Linked DNA regions of Homo sapiens: all the other regions are linked to region 2. The links come from fine-mapping of genetic effects on gene expression. A gene starts in region 2. Each other region holds a variant in brackets. All regions are shown on one strand. Distances are from middle to middle.

Region 1 (4,123 bases), 41 kb after region 2:
GTATGTATGTATGTATGTATGTATGTATGTATGTATTTCAACAGTCTTGCTGTGTTGCCCAGGCTCGAGTTCAGTGGCGTGATCTCAGCTCACTGCAACCTCTGCCTCCTGGGTTCGAGCAATTCTTGTGCCTCAGCCTTCTAAGCAGCTTGCATTACAGGCATATGACACCATGCCTGGCTAATTTTTATATTTTTAGTGGAGACGGGGTTTCACTATGTTGGCCAGGCTGGTCTTGAACTCTTGGTCTCAAGTAATCTGCCTGCGTCAGCCTCCCAAAGCGCTGGGATTACAGGTGTGAGCCACCATGCCTGGCTTAGTGTCATTACTAATGTTGTATAGCAAACCACCACAAAATTTAGTGGCATAAAAATATAAATCATTTTATTATGCTGAAGGTTATTATTGATCAGGATTTCAGAGAGTGTCCTCTCTAATAAAACTTAAGGATGGTTTTTCTCTGCTTTATAACAACTAGGGTCTCTATTGGGAAGACTCAAACATCTGGAATAACTCATATGCCAGGGACTGGAATCATCTGGAAACTTTTTTAACCACAGTTGTGGTGACTGGTGATATGCCATGAAGACTAAGCTTAATTGGGACTCTCAATTGGAATGCCTGTGTATGGCCTCTTCATGTGGTCTGGGCTTCTGGTGGACTGTTCCAGCAAAAAAGATAGATGCTCCCTGATCACTCATGGCCCAGCCTTGTAAATCATTGTCTCATTTCTAGTGTACTTTATTGGGTAAAGCAGTCAAAACTAATCTAGATTCAAGTAGGGTACAGCCACCATTTCTTAATGGGAGGAACGTCAAAGAATTTGTAGGAAGGTTTTAAAATCACCATATATAGTCATGAAAACAATAGTCAAATAGTCAGGAGCTCTTCAGAGAAATCAAAGCAGAAGCTGAAAGGAAAATCAGGCCGATCTCTGTTGATAAGGGTTTTGACAACAAAAATCATTCCTGGATCCAACTGCTGATGGCTGAGGCTGCTGCTATAATCTCCAGCATGTTACATGCTGGCTTAGGAGCTGCAAAGGAAGAGTATTTAGGGCCCTAGATGGGAGAATCTGGAAAAGTTGGGATTGAGTTAACATCTGGAGCCCTAGCAACTAAAAGCTCAGTGTGAATCTTATTTGGATCCTGCCTCAAGAAAATAACCAGGGAAATTTGAACACTGATGATGTTGAGGATTTACTTAATATTTCTGTGTAATGATGGTATTGTTGTTATGTCAAAAATGTTAATTTCATTTTGTTTCAAAATGAAATATTCCTTAATAGTTATTCCTTAATATTCCTTGAGGAATATAAATATCCTTAATAAATAATAAATAGGATATTCCTTAATAAATTCCTTAATTTCATTTTGAAACAAAAGAAATTATTTATTAAGGAATTTTTATTTATTAAGGAATTATTAAGGAATATCCTTATTTATTAAGAAATATCCTAAACAATGTGTAGATAAAATAATATGATGTCTTGGATTTGCTTCAACATAGCCCAGTGAGGGAAAGAGGAGGAGATCGGATTATAGGTGAACCAGATTGGATATATGTTGATATTATGAAACCAATGAGAAGTACATGGGAGTTCTTTATACAATTTTATCTCCTTTTGTGTAAGCTTGAAAACTTTCACACTGAAATTTTTTGGAAGTTTACACACACACACACACACACACACACACACACACAC[G/ACACACACG]GATAGGTATTAACCTCTAGAATGGATTTACCATATTTAAAAGAGTAATAAGGAACTTCCAATAAATTGTATTTGCATTTATTTAAGTCAATTGTTGTCTTGGTAGATAACAACTGTGTAGCACTTTTTATTTCATGAAACCCTTTGACCTTCACAATAATTCCACAAGGTAGGCAGATGATAAGTGTAAGCATAGAGGAATAAAAGGACATGTTCAAGGTCACACAACTAGAACATGGAGGATGCAGGTCTCAAATTTGAGGCTTTTGGTTTTATAACTCATTGCCATTACACGATAAGTTACTATGCAGCAGTAGTTCTTAATATTTAGGGGCTGTGTGACACTTTGATGACCTGATCAAAGCTATGGAACATTTTCCCAGAAAAATGCAAATGTGCGCACATCCAAAAATGTGAAGACAATTTCAGGGATGGGGAGGTTCCTTTCCTCCAATACATCTGAAGCCTACTCATGGATCTCAGGTTAGGCATTACTGCTGTATAAAGAACATGCTTCTTAGTCAATTCTATTTCTCCTTTGTTGGCTATCATAACTCAGCCTTCCAACAGAGTTCTGGCTTGCTCCCTCATCCAATTAACTACATCAAATCTGCTCTCTTGCCTTATTTCTTTGTCTCTGATAATGATCTGAGCATTGAGCATGAAGACATCCTCCCTTAGCCTTAAATCAGCAGTTCCTCACAGGCCCTACAGACACCCATTTCATTTTGTAAAGTTTCATTCACTGTTCCTCATATCTCTTACAACATTACTAGTTTAAAACTATCATCTCAATACTGAGAAACTCAGGTATATTGTCCATAAGCTATTACTGAAATGGTGCCCGGTCATGGGAAGCATGGAGAATTAATCTCTCTTCTGTGCTCATATAGCTCTCTAAGCATGTCTCTATCAAATGAGCTCACACTATGTTATAATGATCCTGTTATGTTTTGCTCCTTCAAGAGGTTGTGAGCTCCTTGGTGACAGAAACCATATCAATTCATCATTAGGGAATGGCTAGCACAAGGCAGGTGAAACAAAGTAAGAGTGAAATAAACATTTCTTGCATTAATAAATAAATGAATCCAAACATTCCATTCAATGAAATACTTAAAATCGTAAAACAAAACAAAACAAAACAACCTGTACATCCTTGCCACGTACAACTGCATCAACCTCAGAGGTCAATTAGGTAGGAATTGTTTTGAATGCTTCCTTCTGTTGCTCTTCCAGATACTAGAAGGAGAGAGATATATATTAAAGGTTCTCCAGTTCTATTAACTGTCTTCCTGGAGACTTATTTTAAAGCCTCATCTGATTAAAATGTTTAGTCTCAATGACTGGCCAAGAGGAGTGATTATTGATTAGCTGTTTTCTTTTGGGTTAAACATGAAAGGCAGAACTATTGTCTCCGGAAGGCATTTGCTGAAAAGAACAGGTGTTACCTTGATAAAAAGCAATAAACCCTGAGCTAGTCTCCCCACCACTGCTGGAGCCCATCTACATAGTCCCTGAATGGGGAGTTGGAGGCTGAACAGATGGATAATTAGGCAAGAAATTCTGTAGAGAGATATTTTGAAAAAAGTAGGAGCAAAGTGTGCTACATGGGAGTCCAGAACCAAGGATGGAGGTGAGGAAAAGTGGTTAGGCAGGAGATTGCTGCTAAATGAAAAGGGTGGAGAAACTTTATTATGAAAACCTTGCCAAAACAACCGTCTTTGACCATTTGTTCTTTGCTCTTCCTCAAAGTCTGTTTAATGATAAAAAGAGATTATTATGGTCTTTGAAGGAGAAGGTTGTCTTTTGTAGATTAATGTGACTTTTACTTAAATCAGAAACCATTTTGCCTAGAGTATAATAGCAATCAAACCAGTGTTTGACTTCCATAAAGTAACTGAAATTGGACTTGGCCTCCTACCAGAAACACTAGAAAATTGTACAAAAATGTATTAAACAACTGTCTTCAGACTTTGGATGAAAGGTAGTACAGGGCTGTGATCCTTGAGAGAAGGTAAATCAGTAATGTGGGCCCTAAAATGATCTCAGCTTTCTGTACTTTAGGGACAGCACATAGCAGGAGAACCCAAACAGAACTCAGTGGTCTTGTTGTGTTGAAGACATAGAAACTACAGGTTGAAGAGGCTGAGGTAGCTGTAGTTTGTAGAGTAGGAAACTGGAGAGTAGGGAGCCATGCAGAGAAAGGGCACCAGAAATTTGCATATAGGTCCACTTGAGTCTGTTGCTGAAAACTAAGCTATGCATGCTAAGGATGAAAACTTTATGCCAAGCAAGGAACCACTAGGGTGCTGCAAAATAAGCAATTTCCAGAGAACATACTTGACTGAAAGTTCCTTGAGTTCCAACCGGCCAAAGTGATGAGGCCTCATTAAACATTAAATACAGACCCTGGAAGAC
Region 2 (4,123 bases):
TCCAATAGTTTTTTACTTTTTTCTTTTACTGACCTAATCCTGAATAACCTTAAATTGCTGCTTTCCTTACTTCTCCTTAACTTCCCCAGACCTCTCTGCAAACTTCTAATTCCCATTCGGCTGAAACACTGTAATACTTCTAGTCCCATTATTACAAATTCTAACAAGTCTCCAAAAGCTGAAACTGACTTCTCCAAGGTGACCAGGCTTTCTTAGCGTTTCCAACTCTTTCCCCCTAGATCCTAGAAAATAACTTTACCCTGATACTCTTCTAGTTCCTTCCCTCACCATCCTTCTTTTTTCACGTTTTTACCTACGTTTCCAATTCACCTCATCCAGCTCTACCTCCGTATTACTTCTTCTCATTCCGAACTATCTCAAGTTTCCTAAAAGCACCTACTGTTCTAGCACATACTCCAAAATTCCCGCACTGCCTTTTTCTCCTTTCTCTACTCTTGGGACAAGCAATCACAATTCCTTCGACACGCAACTAGCTCCATCTTCCCTTCTAGGAAACCTTCTCTAGCCTACCCAAGCACTGTTAATCACTCCCCTCTAGATTATTCTACTACGGTAGCACTTCCTAAACTATACTGCGCAGTAATCACTAATTACGTGTAGTTTCTCTTCAGTGTTTTTCTCCTTCAAAGCAGGGTTTCTATTCTGTTCATTTGGACCCTAACAGTATACCAGGCATCGAACATTTGCTAACTGGAGAAATAAGAGCTCCAACATTTACTTCCTATCAAAGCTTTCCAATGCCGCGGTTTTCAAAAACCTAAGCATTCGACACTCCAATTTGAGAAATACCAGTGAATACCAGTAACTAAACTGGATGGTGACATTTGATGAGGCGAAAACAATATTTAAAATCAATTCCCCCTGTCGCCTCTCCAAAAGGGCATTTCCACATTGAAGTTCCAGTAATTCTAGGTGACAGGAAGCGCGCGTTCTGGCTACGAGCATCACACAACGAAGTTAATGTGGATGGGAGTGGGAGGCACTGCAGGGATAGGAAACAGCATAAGCAACGACTAGTAAGCGCTCGAGAGACGGCGGACTACTATTCTGCAACGTCTCTTAAACACACTGGCGCGCCTCACCTGATCTGGCGAGTTTCCTAGAGGGGCCGCTGAACCCACGTGACCAAAAGAGCTACATTTTTGCAGGCCAGGGAGTGGGCAGTTATCCCAGCCGGCCCTTGGGAATGTTAGGCAACCGGGGTTGGTTGCTACGCCAAAAGGTGAATAAGGGCTGGGGAACAGGGGCGGCCAGCCCAGTTTCACTGGGAGCCAGAGGGTGCAGCTTCGACACAGCCACAGTGAATGGAAGCTTGGGGAGCGCGGGGCAATCTAGGCATTCCCGCCGACCTCCAGAATTGCGTCAGAAGCTGGACTGACAGCGCCCTGAAACGTGAGGAAACTCAAAGAGGCGCTTAGGGCCGACGTGGGGCCCACTCGCGCCAACTGCTTCTTACCGACAAGTGAGAACCAGAAGCCGCAGAGACAGACGCCGCCGCCATCTTTCAGCCTGCCCAGGGGGTCTCCGCACTTCGGGGGCGGTCTAGGTTCTCGTGCTCTTCTCCAAGACTCGGGAGCCGCCCACCAGCGGGGACCCTAGGCTGAACCCCTGATGGAAAAGGGCAAGGGTGCTGGTGCTGGGCTTGGAAACCCCTGCAACACACCCCCTCAGGGCCGCCTACGCTCACAGCTTACACAGAAAGGGCAACACGTCCTAACGGACGTCTTTCCTAGCCAATCAAAACAGCAGACGTCTTTCTGTAGTAGGAGAGAATCCGCCTCTTCCCTGGTGACGTCACAAGGTAGCGCGTAACGGGGCCCGCTGGGGCAGACAACGCCGGGGTTACAGGCCGGCTCTGCGGGGATTCTACGGAGGGTCGGGCCTCCTCCAGTAAGAAGCGTGGGCGAGTAGTGGTGTCGCCAGTGGCAACTGAAGGGAGTAATGGAGATAAAACAAAAGCGAAGGCGAAGTTAAAGCACTCCACGAGTTCCCTCGGATTAAACGCCGGAGAGAGCGTGAATTTGCCTCGGGGACGCCTCTCCAGGTGAAGTATTTACCTTTTGGCCAATAACAAATAGGATTAGGAGGGACTTAACGATTTAGTCCAATAGAAAGCAAGGGAAAAAAAGTTGCGGCAGAGAACGAGCCTTTCGCGAACATTTGCTCAATTGGATTGGGGCGCTCTCAGCCAAACCTGGGACTGGCTGTTAGAAATAGCCGCGACCGCAGACCTTTGGGCGGGGCAGGTTCAAAGCGGATTTCGCGCGCTGAGAGCTCCGGGATGTCATTGGCCGGCGACATCCTCCCTTTGTGGGCGCTTCCTGCGTCGCGGAAGTTGGGAGTTGGGAGGAGCCATCGAATGACGCGATAGCCTTCGCAGCCAATCAGGGATGGGAAAGGGAGGCCGAGAAGGAAGCGGATCCACGGCCGCACAGCTAAACAGCAACCCCCTACCCGCTTCGTCTCCCTCCGCCGCTATCGGGGCCTAAGCGGGAGCGGCTGGCACGGCGTCACTGGGTGGGCTGGGGCGGAAGTGGAGGCGGAGGGAGACGGTGGCGTCGTCCGCGGGGCCCTGGGCTCTCGCGGCGAGGCCCTGGTGGGCGCGAGGCAGGGGGAGGGGGAGGAGGAGGAGCCCGCGGCCCGGGCGGCGGCGGCTCTCGGGTTCTCCGTAGGGCCCCGCCTCGGAGCGGGCGGCGGCGGAGGAGGAGACTGAGGAGCAGGATGGCGGCCTCGGCCCTGTACGCCTGCACCAAGTGTACCCAGCGTTATCCTTTCGAGGAGCTCTCCCAGGGCCAGCAGCTCTGCAAGGTCCGTGGGCTCCGGGAGGCGGGCGGGATGGGTGTCCTCGGCCGTAGCCGGAGGGGGCCGGGTAGCCGCTGCACTGCAGCCCCTCTTCGCCGGCGCCTCAGGGGTTTGGGAGTCTGGAGCCCTCGCCTCCCCACTCGGGGACCCCTTTTTCTGGGGGCTTGAACATTAGCTGGGAACGGACCCTGAAAGGGAGGCAGAATCGTGCCCTTTTCCAGGCGGCCCAGGAGGGTGCCGGGCCCCGTCAGCGTCTGGGGGTCTCAGGAGTGGGGTTGAGTGAGGCAGCCACCTGTCTATGCCGCAGAGACCCAGGGGTGGAGATGTTTTCATCTCGGTTTTCTGCCTGGTCTGTCCTCTTCTTCCACCAGGAGGCAGGGGACGGTTTTTGCACTTTCTTGCTAGGAACCCGAAGCCGCAAAGCTGATGGCATCCTTCTTCCCTGTCCAGGAAAGCGAAGCGACTGGTTTGGGAACAGAATGCTCTGATTTGGAGCTCCTCCCATCCCATTAAAGCCTGGATGCTGTCTGTGAGCAACGGTGCAAAATAATAAGTAGTTTCACATTTAACCAATCCTTGAAATAGGCCCTGACAGCTTTCTTAATTTGTCTGTAATATACCCCCACGTCTACTAAAGACAAAGACACCTGTGCCTTCCCTAAGGAATTATATTGTGATTGGCCACTTATATGATAAAGCATCCAGTTCTTTACGTTGGGGCCAGGTTTTATAAATGTTTTAGACTTTCACTAGGTTGGGTAAACAGTTTTCTACCAGAAAAGTGAGATTTGGGACTTTCAGAAAGATACTGACTAATGTATTGTCTTATTACAGGAATGTCGGATTGCACATCCTATTGTAAAATGTACTTACTGCAGATCAGAATTTCAACAAGAGAGGTTTGTATACTGAATAGTTTTTGACTGTTAAAGACAAGTGTTGTCTTTATGGAATACTTGGGGGTTGTAATCCCATGTTTTTATGAAAGTATTTTTAAAAAATGGTTTAGCCCCAGAAATTTTAAGTTGTAAACCTTTTATACATGGTGGGAGAGAGAATGTTGCGAAAAAAACCAGTGGTGGTTAATTTACAGTTAGACTTTATATGAGAGAAGGAATAATACTACATGGAAAATGTACAGCCTTGCTAATGAAAATGCAAATGTAAACAGTTATGTTAAACTAAAAAAAAATGGTAAAGCCTTAATGGATCTGAGGAAAGGTCTGTAGTGTTACCAACTGCCTTCCAAGGTGAAAATCTAATAATTTGTTACATAGAAGAGGAGTAGTACGTAACATTT
Region 3 (4,123 bases), 150 kb before region 2:
TTACTTCCAAGATACAATGGGGATACAAGCATTGGGTAAATGCATCCATTCCAAAAGGGAGAAATTGGCCAAAACAGAATGGCTACAGGCCCCATGCAGGTCCAAAATCCAACATGGCAGTCATTAAATCTTAAAGCTCCTAAATAATTTCCTTTGAAACCACATGTCACATCCAGGTCATGCTGATGCAAGGAGTGGGCTCTCATGGTCTTGAGCAGCTCTGCCCCTGTGGCTTTGCAGGATGCAAGCCCCCTCCCAGCTGCTTTCATGGACTGGTGTTGAGTGTCTGTTGCTTTTCCAGGTTAATGGTGCAAGCTGTCAGTGGATCTACCATTCTGGGGTCTGGAGGACAGTGGCCCTCTTTTCATAGCTCCAGTAGGCAATACCCCAGTGGGGACTGTGTGTGGGGGCTGTGAGCCCACATTTCCCTTCCACACTACCCTAGCAGAGGTTCTCCATGAAGGCTCCATCTCTGCAGCAAACTTCTGCATGGACATCCAGACATTACCATACATCTGAAATCTAGGCAGAGGTTCCTAAACCTCGATTATTGACTTCTGTGCATCCACAGGCCCAACATCACATGGAAGCCACCAAGGCTTGGAGCTTGCACCCTCTGAAGCAATGGCCTGAGCTGTACATTGACCCCTTTTATTCACAGCTAGGACGCTGGGCACCAAGTCATGAGACTGCACAAAGAAGCAAGGCCCTGGGCCTAGCCTACGAAATCATTTTTTCCTCCTAGGCCTCTGGGCCTGTGATAAAAGGGGTCCCTTGAAGACATCTGACATGTCCTGGAGACATTTTCACTATTGTCTTGGCGATTAACATTTGGATCCTCATTACTTATGCAAATTTCTGTTGCCAGCTTGAACTTCTCCTCAGAAAATGGCTTTTTCTTTTCTATCACATCGTCAGGCTGCAAATATTTTAAACTTTTATGCTCTGCTTCCCTTTTAAACGTAAGTTCCAATTCCAAACAATCTCTTTGTGAATGCATAAAACTGAATGCTTTTAAGAGCACCGAAGTCACCTCTTGAATGCTTTCTTGCTTAGAAATTTCTTCTGTGAGATATCCTAAATCATCTCTCTGAAGTTAAAGTTTCCCAGACCTCTATGGCAGGGGCAAAATTCTGCCAGTCACTTTGCTAAAGCATAGCAAAAGCCACCTTTATTCCTGTTCCCAGCAAGTTCCTTATCTCCATCTGAGACCACCTCAGCCTGGACTTTATTGTCCATATCACTATCAGCATTCAAAAAGCCATTGATTTGTTGAACAATTTGTTGAACAAAGCCATTCAACAAGTCTCTAGGAAGTTTTGAGCTTTCCCACATCTTCCTGTCTTCTGAGCCCTCCAAATTGTTCCAACCTCTGCCTGTTACCCCATTCCAAAGTCACTTCCACATTTTTGGGTATCGTTATAGCAGCACACCACTTCCTGTGGTATCAGTTTACTGTATTAGTCCATTCACTCACTGCTATAAAGAAATACCTGAGACTGGGTAATTTATAAAGAAAAGAGGTTTAATTAACTCACAGTTCTGCATGGGTGGGGAGGCCTCAGAAAACTTACAACCATGGCAGAAAGTGAAGCAGAAGCAGGGACTTTCTTCACAGGGCAGCAGGAAGAAGTGAGTGCAAGCAGGGGTAATGTCAGACACTTATAAAACCATCAGATCTCATGAGGACACACTCACTATC[A/G]TGAGAACATCATGGGGGAAACTGTCACCATGATGCAATCACTTCCCACTGGGTCCCTCCCCTGAAATGTGGGGATTATGGGGATTACAATTCAAGATGAGATTTCAGTGGGGCCACAGCCAGAACATATCAAACTGCTATCCAATGATAAAAGACAATGAAACGTTACAGACACACAATACAGGCAGGAATTCTGTATGTTCATATCTTTCAGCAACCAACATTTAGATTATCTAAAAAGGCAAAGAACAGCAACTAGCTGAGGTAATAAAGGAGGATAAAGAGGACAGGATAGGAGTTTGGGAAGAAAGAATTATAAGTAGTAATCAATGTCTTGGTGATAAACTGCAGAAATAAGGCCTATAAAAGCTGCCCATATTTTCTTCTTTGTACTATTATGTCTATGTTTTTCTCATTCATTCATCTCTCTTCTCTCTATTGTTTTATATAGTATGACTGATTGATTTTATTATTCAATCATATTAATATTATTTTTCAATGCCATAATATCCTTGGGTTGGTTACAGGATATTATGTCAGGGTTGTGATTTAACTAGAAAAGGAGTAAACATCATTCAGAGATAGTTACAGATACTGATGAGATTTTGGGTTTCTCCTTTTATAGAAGCATGTTTTTATCTCTATGATGAATAGTTTCATTGTGACTGGAAGCATATGTTGTGCAATTATTATTTAGAAGTTTAAGTAGTAGTAGAATGGTGTTTCTGAAAGTGAAATAGCCAGGCTGGGCGCAGTGGCTCATGCCTGTAATCCCAGCACTTTGGGAGGCTGAGGCGGGTGGTTCATGAGGTCAAGAAATCGAGACCATCCTGGCCAACATGGTGAAACCCTGTCTCTACTAAAAATACAAAAAATTAGCTGGGCGTGGTGGTGCACGCCTGGAGTCCCAGCTACTTGGGAGGCTGATGCAGGAGGATCGCTTGAACCTGGCAGGCGGAGGTTGCAGTGAGCAAAGATTGCACCACTGCACTCCAGCCTGGCAACAGAGCAAGGCTCCGTCTCAAAAAAAAAAAAAAAAAAAAAAAAAAAAAAAAAAAAGAAAAGAAAAGAAAAGAAAGAAAGAAAAGAAAAGAAAGTGCAATAGCCAAAGGGATGAATTGTAGTGAGTATAGTGGATGGCACTCAGCATTTTACACACTCTTTCTAGTGGGCTTCCTAAAACTGCAGAGGTGGGAAAGCTACAAAATACATTTTTCAGACTTTCTTAAATACTAAAGTCATGAATATAACATCAGTTCTGTTAATTAGATGCATTCACAAAATACTTGGAAAATGGTAGTGAGACAGAGACAATCTATTTACTGTTTTGGCTGATTGCCAGCCTTGAAGTTCTGTGTTTCTTGATCGTTGGATTATAGCTTGTTTATAGTAATTGCATCAGTTCTAATGGCAACATTCTCAAATCTCCACTTTCCTCATTTTAGCACAGGCTGCTAAAGCCTGTTCCTTTGCAAAGCCTGTTTAGCTATGTCATTCTGAGAATCATTTCTGAAGGTGCTACCTGGAATCCACTACTTCATCCCTTTCATGATTTTATAGGCATCTAATTCCATCTGAAATGCTTTTCTGTTTAAAATAGCTAGCAGAGTACAGAGGGCAGAAAGGAGAACACCAGACTTTTCATGCATTAAACTACTCTAATAGAAACCTTTGGCTGTTGTATATATATATACATATATATATACACACACACACACACACACACACACACACACACACACACACACACACATATACACATGCACACAACTGACAATAAATATAGACCAGATGCCTAAGTTTTGAGGAAATTATATTGGCAAAGAAGCACCAAGTCAGTTCTATTATACAAAAATCTATGATTATTTGAGTGCTAAAGCAACCTGAAGGCCTATAAACTTGCATCTAGAAGATAGCTGCAAAAGATGTGATGAACTCCCTGCCTCCACACAAAATAAATTCTCTCCAATGCCTATCTCAAATGTATCATGGAGCAAAATAGGCAAGGAAAAACGTACTCCAAACAGGCCAGGGAGAATAATGAACAAAGGTGTTCCTCCCAGAGAAAAGAAATATGGAATGCCAAATGAGCTAAACAAAACATTTATTGTTAAAACAGGGAGTTTTTATTATTCCTATCCAGCAGGAGCTTATAATTTCCAGAAATCACCAACTGTTTCCCAGTCTTTCCTTTTTTGAATATGATTTCTTATTGTACTAATCCTGTTCCTGATCCACCATCATATAATAAAGGTATGTGTGAGTGGGGAGGTGAATCTAATTTTTTTATAGTTGTATAGAATACCAGAGCACAAGAAGCCATATCTGGAAATGATGCCGAGAACTGCATTGCTCCCACAAATACTGGGCCTTGAGCTGTAAAGAATTACTAAGGAGATTTATAGTTTTGCCCTTGAGAAG
Region 4 (4,123 bases), 49 kb after region 2:
ATAGTAATTTGACATGGCTTATAGGCCTAAACATAATGCTAAACTTATGACATTTTTTGAAGAAAAATATCAGAAAATATTTGTGACTTTGCGTTGGCATGGATGTTTTAGGCACAGAGAAAGCATGGAATATGAAGAAAAAATGGAAAAATAGAACGTTATCATAATTAAAATATTCTGCTCATAAGACCATTAAGAGAATGGAAAGGCAAATACAAACTGGGAGAAAATATTTTCAAAGTATATCTGACAAAGGATTTGTATATAAACATAAAAGAACCTTAGGATTCAATGAGAAGATAAAAAAATCCCAAGTAGAAAATGGGCAAAAGATTTCAACAGATTCACCATGAAAGAAGATATGCAAATGGCCAATAAGCACATGAAAAGATGCTGAACATCACTAATCATCAGGGAGTGCAAATTAAAACACAATGAGGGCCTGGCGCGGTGGCTCACGCCTGTAATCCCAGCACTTTGGGAGGCCGAGGCGGGCGGATCACGAGGTCAGGAGATCGAGAACATACTGGCTAACACGGTGAAACCCCGTCTCTACTAAAAATACAAAAAAATTAGCTGGGCATGGTAGCGGGCGCCTGTAGTCCCAGCTACTCGGGAGGCTGAGGTGGGAGAACGGCGTGAATTCAGGAGGCGGAGCTTGCAGTGAGCCAAGATCGCGCCACTGCACTCCAGCCTGGGCGACAGAGCAAGACTCCGTCTCAAAAAAAAAAAAAAAAAAAAAACCACAATGAGATACAATCACGGATTCACTAGAATTACTAAAATTAAAGAGATTGACAATACGAAGTATTTACAAAATGTGGAGCTACTGTAACTCATAAATTAGTTATGAGAATATAAAATGATAGAACACTTTGGAAAACAGTCTGGCATATTCTTATAAAGTTAAAATACAATTATCATAGGACCAGCAATGCTGTTTAGGAATCTACACAGGAGAAAGAGAGCATATGTCCACATAAAAAATTTTACATGAATGTTCATAGCAGCTTTATTCATAACAGCCAAAAAAAAAAAAAAAAAAGCAAACAACTCAAATGTCTATGACTAGGTTGATAAATAAACAAATTATAGTATATTCACACACTGGATTACTACTTAGCAATAAAAAAGAGCAAAGTACTTAAACATGTAACACATAAATGACTCAAAAATAAACTGAATGAAAGAAAATACACAAAAGCAAACGTACGAAATTTTAGCAAAGACAAAAACTCAACTAAAGTGACAGATAAGTGGTTGCTTGGGGACTAGGGTGGCGATAATTTGCTACCAAGGGGACAAGGGAACTTTTTGGGATGATGGAAATGTATTGATGACTGTGGTAGTTATAGAGGTTATACATTTGTCAAATCTCATTCACATATAAATATAAGAAATAGGTGCACTTTATTGTGTATAATTCATACCTTAAGTTGATTTGAAAGACCACGACAATGCATGACTCCCTGACAGGACCGCTGGTCAGCTAGCAGCAACCATTTTACTAGTCATATAAGTTTATGTTACACTGATTCACTATTTAGGTTAGGAGGAGAATATAGCTCCTTTGGTACAGCGATGGGGGCTTTGCCTGGCTAGAATTTATCATGCCCTTTGAGCAGTGGGTGATGTGATGAGATATCCCCAGGATGAAGAAAAGGGAAGGCAAAAGTGCAAAAGTCTGTCATATGGTAACTAATATTCTTGACC[A/G]GACAACACTTCTATAGGTCCCAGAGAAATCTGAGTAGAGGGAAAGGCCAGACAAATATATGCTATCCCTTGTCAGGATTTTAGCTCCTCATGCTGCATTTACATTGTGAGAAGTGAGTTTTAAGAGATACCAAAAGGGAACAAAGCATTAAGAAAGAACAATTTAGGCTGGGTGCAGTGGCTCATGCCTGTAATCCCAGTACTTTGGGAGGCCGAGGCAGGCAGGTCACCTGAGGTCGCGAGTTCGAGACCAGCCTGAGCAACATGGTGAAACCCCATCTCTACTAAAAACACAAAAGTTAGCCGGGTGTGGTGGTGCATGCCTGTAGTCCCAGCTACTTGGGAGGCTGAGGCAGGAGAATCGCTTGAACCTGGGAGGCAGAGGTTGCAGTGAGCCGAGATCATGCCATTGCACTCCAGCGTGGGCAACAAAGGCGAAGCTCTGTCTCAAAAAAAAAAAAAAAAAAAAAAGAAAGAAAGAAAGAAAGAACAATTTTCATGGGAGCAAGGGTGCATAAACTCCTTAGTGTTCTACTCCCAACCTTTCAACAGTAATAGCCCAGGCTTATATTGTGTTCATTGTGTACTACACATTTCTTTCATATATATATATATATATATATATATATATATATAGTATATGTCATATATAAAGACACATGCTGCATACAGATATTTGTGTGTGTGCACACACATATATATTTTATATATATAGTTATGCATCATTTAATGATGAAAATGTCCTTTGAGAAATGGATTATTAGGCACATTTATCATTATGTGAATATCATAGAGTGTACTTACACAAACCTAGATAGTAATAGCCTACTGCACATCTAGGCTATATGGTGGTCCAGCCTATTGTTGCTGCTTGGCTACAAACCTGTACAGCATGCTGCTAAACTGAATGCTGTAGGCAATTGTAACATAATGGTAAGTATTTGTGTATCTAGACATACCTAAACATAGAAAAAATACAGTAAAAATACAGCGCAAGAGATAAAATAATGGTATATCTGTATAGGGCAGCTCCATTATAATCTTGTGGGACCATAATTGCATATGCAGTCTGTTGTTGGCAGAAGCATTGTTATGTGATGCATAGCTGCATATAATTTATTCCTATCTCATGACAACCTTGATTATCACTCCTATCTGACAGTTTGGTCATTGAGACACAGAAAGAATAACTAGCTTGCCCAAAGTCACACAGCTACTAAGAGACAGACCTAAGATTTAAACCTGTAGATTATGGTGCTTTCCACAATTCTGCCAGTTGTGCTCTTAAGGTATCAGCACTTCAGAACGATTCCCCTCACAGGTAGAATCAAGCAAAGAGAGACTTCACCTCCCAGTTCAGATTGAGAAATATAAAAAAGAACCCCATCCTTTATGTATGTACATATGTATGGTGAGTGTATTTGCTGAAGGTAACTGCCTACTATCACTTATTTGATTTTTCATTTAACAAATATTTGTTAAATGTGTGACTTCCAGGTATCTGATATTATGCCAATCATTGGGGATTCAGAAATAAATACATTGTAATCCCCAGTTTCAAAGGACTGGAAATTCCTCCAGGATGACTGTGAAAGGCACATAGTGCAGAGGAGAGTTAGAACACTGACCACACTAGCTATAGGCTGGATATTTAGGCCATACAATATCCATCTACATTCTCAGGAGACTGTCTGCACTTGACTCACTGAAGGTCACACCTGGGCATCCCTGGGGATCCTCTTATCTTTACCATTAAGCAATGTGAAGCCATAAAATGATTAGGGTTGGCAGGCTTTTAGAGGATTAATGTTCTAACAAATTGGGTGATTTTGCTCAGCTTAGCTATTGAGGATAACATATTGTGAATTTACTGAGCTCATCTGTGACCAGATTCCTCTGCAGGGTAATTGAAAGTGAGTGGAAATGGCTATTTATGTATTCTCAGCCATTAGATGTTGCTTTCATCTCTGATTTCTTTGGATGATGAGTCAAAATATATACTGAGATCATTGCCTGTGGGTTCCACTTTGCATGTTCAATTAACTAAGGCCTGTGCTTAGTACTGGACATTAAAAGACAGATGGTGAAGGGAAGCTGGACTCAGACTTCAGAAGTGACCCACCAGCCAAATGGGGGTATATTTCTGAATTGCATCTTCCTTTAGGGCTTGATGGCCACTAGGGGTGTGAGTTGCCCTCAGCTAAATTCACAGACCTGTGGTAGTGTGGCCCAAAGTGTTCGTCTTGATGTTAAGAATAATTTTAAAACCCCTTAAAAAAGAGCTTTTGGTGAAATTCATCTGAGAGGTTCTGCACTGAACAAGGTTGAATGCATTTCTGTAGTGCAGGATTTTTCAGCATCCTGGGCAGCCTTACATGTGTTGGTACTCTCTAAAAGAAGGTAATAAAAT
Region 5 (4,123 bases), 21 kb after region 2:
TTTATTAAATGAACTTCAGATATATGTAAATTTGTTTTTTAAAGTTACATCATTAACATTAGTAACCTAGCATTTTCATTATTGGTATAGGAATTAATGTTTATTGTACAGTATCTAAGGTAAAATGTGTTTCTGTTTTGTAAAAACTACTGTAGATTTTTACTTACAAGTGCCTTTTTGCCACCTAATGTTTTTATTTATAGGAATGCTGATCTTTTGTACATACATTTTGTTTTAAAATCATGTTTAATAAATGTTTGTATATAAATGCATATGTACAGAAGCCTATTTCAAAAGGAAATCAAAGTTGCTAGTAAAATGTTTGAGATTACATTTAGAACTAACTGATAATGCATATAGATTGTAGAAAATTTTGTGATTTGTTTCTGTGTGATAAGGGAAGCTGTTGGTCTTTGAATTCATTTAATTATGTCAAAATAGTTCCCCAAAGATTTAATTTTAAGTTGCTTCTTAAAGAGTAATTTTATTTTTTATGTCATGTGGCTTCATATTAGTATTGTGTGAGTTACATGTTTTGCTTTATATTTTATAAAATTTTTTAAAAATTTTAATGTTTCTGCAATGATCCATGTATCTGCTTTCCCTATGTGTGGTTATCTAAGTTAATATTTATGTACAATGTAATTTGTAAATTTAAAGCAAATCTGAAAAAAATTAAATGATCTTTTTAATCCAATCTGTGATAATCTTTGAATAAATTGGAATCTACTATAAGATTCAGGCATTATAAGTAAATTGTCCTAAAGTCTTTAAAATTGTCTATAAAAGGTTAAGGTAGGGTGGGATAGGTTATATGAAGTTATTGACTATATTCTGATCCAGCGGTTTTCAGCCTGAAATAGAATTTATCTCCTAGTTATTATCAGTTCAGAGTTTTAGTTTGATTTTAAAGTATTGCTAGATACACTGTATAGAGTGAGTTGCTTCTCTTAATAATTTATGGGCAAAGATAAATTTGCTTCATGTAAAACTGTTACTAAATTTATAAGTTTTAAAGGTTTTGTTTTATACAAGCATTGATTGTGAATGTCATATCAAAGATTGGCTTTCTTAAGAACACATGATTGAAACAATTTTTTTTTAACATGACGTGTTTCAATAGACTGTTCTCATAGTTCATTATAAAGTGAATACCAAATAATTCTTTGTCCATTTTGAAAGCATAATATAGGGTAATTTTCAAGTGATACAAAAAGATTCAGTTAGAATCTTGTAAACTAAACCAGTTTATTTTTATGGGATCTTCATGTAATAATTTTCTTAAATTTAGTACTCTCAACCATGATAGATAATGCCTTAACATGGATTTTAACGTTTGCAGGATTTGCTAAATTCATAAGATAGTTATTACCTTTCTTTGAAATTTGTAATGTTTTATATTCTTGTTTCATAGCCATTTGTCAGTCCACAGTGGTCATTATGGTTTTACTTTTTGATAGTTCTTACACCTTGTTGGAGAAACTACAAAAGAAAGTTGTCCTCGTCCTTCCCCTTAGCTAACATCAAAATTAAAAAGTTGAATATTAATATTAGCTAACATTAAAATGGAAGGTAATTCAGTTTTAGTGTTAGCTAACATTAACAGTCTAATAATTTAGCTTTGTAAATTCCAAGGCTAAAACCCTTTCATGGGCTTCACAGTATTTAGTCCTAATTAAATACCCTTCTTTATTCCATGACCTTATTTTATAACTTAAATTTTTTTGCAATTGTATAAATTAGTAATTCAGTCCCAGTCCTGGATCTCTGTAGTGTTTTGACATAATAAACTGATATTCTTTAAATGTGGACCTGTAAGGAGATACTATGGTGTGGTGTATTGTGCTTTTAGCCTGTTTTCCACTATTAATTAGCATTTACCAGTAAGGGTCATTTTGACTCAAGTTATTTATGTATTAATAGCCTGTGAATATTGCAGTCCTTTTTAGATTATATTGGTCTAAATATGCATTCTGCAGTGAACCTGTTAAGCTGTTCACATGTATAGACTATTGAAATACTGTACTTGTACACATCTGACTGTTGACATTTTGTACTTTTTTCTAGATCCAATATTTCACAATAAAAAACTTGTCAAAGGCTTTGTATTAGTTTTCAATGGCTGCTGTAACAAACTCCCACACACTTAGTGTCTTAATACAACAAAAATTAATTCTTTTATGGTTCTGGAGGCCAGAAGTCCAAAATCAGGTTTACTGGTCTAAAGTCAAGGTATTGGCAGGATTGCTTCTTTCTGGAGGCTGTAGGGGAAAATCTGTTTTCTTGCCTTTTCCAGCTTCTAGAGCTGCATTCCTTGCATGCTATGAGCTCATTGACCTTTATCTTCAAAGCCCAA[A/G]TTGTAGCATCTCAAATCTCTCTCTGCTGCTGTCATCATACCTTCTCAGAGTGTCTCCCTCTGTTCCCTCTCATAAGGACCTTATGAGAACATTATTGGCTCCACCTGCACAAACAACGTAGTTTTTCCATCTCGAGTTCTTAACCTAGTCACATCTGCAAAGTCCCTATTGTCATATAAGGTAATGTATTCACTGGTTCCAAGGGTTCGGGCATGGACATATTGGGGGACCATTATTGAGCCTACATAGCTTCATCTACATTTTACCCCCTTTTTCCAGTATGAAACCCTGAAACAACAGATACATGAGAGAAGTTTAGGCCAAACATTAGAAACTATTTTCCTGTCTGTCCATTCAGACCACTTTAGTGCAATAGTTATTTTTCCTGGAAGAAATAAATTTGCATCTAATTGAGCAAGTATTTCAAGCTATAGTTAAGTTTTTGAAAGCTTTGGAACATGACTAGTACCATGCTAGATTGTTTGATAAGTTAAAAGTTGAAGGTGTGATTCTTTCATTTGTAGACTAGGTGGGCAGATACTGTGCTTGGGAAAAAATCTGGAACCTAACTTTGGTATTATAAAGTGTAGTAAAAGCTAACAGCTTTTAGCAAGGGCATTTCAAGACTTCAGGTGTAGTCCCTTGTTTCTCAAACGTTAGTATACATCAGAGTTACCTGGAGGGCATGATAAACACATGTTGCTGGACCTTATCCCCAGTTTTCTGATTCAGTGGGTCTGGGATGGAGCCTAAGAATTTTCAGTTCTCAGTTCTCAGGTAATGCTGCTTCTGGCCCAGAGCTCACATTTTGAGAACTATCATTTTAATATTCCCTGCATTTCCCATACAAACTATACCATTGGGTAGGTAAGTAGTAGATGGGGGGTAGTTTCTCTTTAAAACATTCTAATGAAAAAGGAAGGATGGAATTGCAACATCACTATTTTGCAACCTCTCATGGAGTTAAGGATTGGTCATCAGCAGCTACTGACAATACACAAACACATTCTTAAGTGCTTTCTGATGGAGGAATACACTGCTACCTATAAAGTTTTGCCAAAAAGAATCAAACCTAAATCTGACGAAGCATCTACCAATTAACCAAAAATAGAAAGGATGGAAGATCATGTTGAGTGACACCAAAAGGATACAGTTGGCACAGTTGTTCAATAAGTTGCAAGCAGAGGGAATCAGTGGAGGGAGAACCTATAGTATAAAAGGTACTTAATATAAACCAGTCACAATATGTGACCCTGATATGGATCTGGAATCAAGAAATTAAAAATTTTTAACATGTATGAGAACTGAAAATTTGAACACTGGTTATGTAATGATTTTAAGGAATTAAGTACTGTTAACTTTTCAGATGTGATGATGGTGTTGCAGCTATCTTTTTAGAGTCCTAGAGACACCTACTAAAATATTTATAATGAAATGGTATGATGATTGGTATTTGCTTCAAAATAGTATAGGGAGGGAGATACGAGAATATAAATGAAACAGGATTGGGTGTGAGTTGTTAATTTTTGAAACTGGGTGATAGTTATATGGTGGTTTATTATACTATATTCAACTTTTGTGTAAATTTTTTCTTAATAACAAGTAACACTACCACCATCACCCCTGCCTGCCAAGTTACGCTCAATTTGAACAATACATGCTTATTGAAAAAAAAAATGCACAGCACAAAAATCAGGAGAAAAAAGAAAAAACCACTCACAGTTCTCCCAGGTGACATATTTGTTTCTGTTTTATATGTTTTCTTG

Which allele goes with the higher level. Positions count from the first base shown, and alleles are read on the strand shown. Sizes are in standard deviations (SD) of each study's normalised expression. Not every link is listed here.
For the expression in activated CD8 T cells of the gene that starts at base 1,723 in region 2, ACACACACG is the high allele of the variant in region 1 and G is the other (large effect, 0.82 SD a copy in Schmiedel 2018).

What was found. PIP is the estimated chance that this variant, and not a neighbour inherited with it, causes the effect.
Region 1: its variant is the best candidate, but not a certain one, in a credible set for the expression of CEP57 in activated CD8 T cells (Schmiedel 2018, PIP 0.81).
Region 3: its variant is the best candidate, but not a certain one, in a credible set for the expression of CEP57 in lymphoblastoid cells (GTEx, PIP 0.62).
Region 4: its variant is the best candidate, but not a certain one, in a credible set for the expression of CEP57 in whole blood (INTERVAL, PIP 0.79).
Region 5: its variant is the best candidate, but not a certain one, in a credible set for the expression of CEP57 in whole blood (TOPMed, PIP 0.72).

Annotation. Positions count from the first base shown.
Region 1 is chr11:95,746,827-95,750,949 of GRCh38, reverse strand. No RefSeq gene overlaps it. Among named protein-coding and RNA genes, the nearest start is that of FAM76B, 41 kb to the left of the region's middle. The variant G/ACACACACG (reference allele first, on the strand shown) is at 1,706.
Region 2 is chr11:95,788,098-95,792,220 of GRCh38, reverse strand. It overlaps CEP57 (centrosomal protein 57), which reads right to left and starts at 1,723. Exons shown (of 11, transcript NM_014679.5): 1 at 1,478-1,723. The coding sequence starts at 1,522. FAM76B (family with sequence similarity 76 member B) reads left to right here and starts at 2,439. Exons shown (of 10, transcript NM_144664.5): 1 at 2,439-2,829; 2 at 3,658-3,722. The coding sequence starts at 2,743. RefSeq lists enhancers at 815-1,478, 1,442-1,911 and a silencer at 2,412-2,831.
Region 3 is chr11:95,941,327-95,945,449 of GRCh38, reverse strand. No RefSeq gene overlaps it. Among named protein-coding and RNA genes, the nearest start is that of MTMR2, 19 kb to the right of the region's middle. The variant A/G (reference allele first, on the strand shown) is at 1,703.
Region 4 is chr11:95,739,058-95,743,180 of GRCh38, reverse strand. No RefSeq gene overlaps it. Among named protein-coding and RNA genes, the nearest start is that of FAM76B, 49 kb to the left of the region's middle. The variant A/G (reference allele first, on the strand shown) is at 1,714.
Region 5 is chr11:95,766,932-95,771,054 of GRCh38, reverse strand. FAM76B (family with sequence similarity 76 member B) reads left to right here. Exons shown (of 10, transcript NM_144664.5): 10 at 1-2,102. Among named protein-coding and RNA genes, the nearest start is that of FAM76B, 21 kb to the left of the region's middle. The variant A/G (reference allele first, on the strand shown) is at 2,357.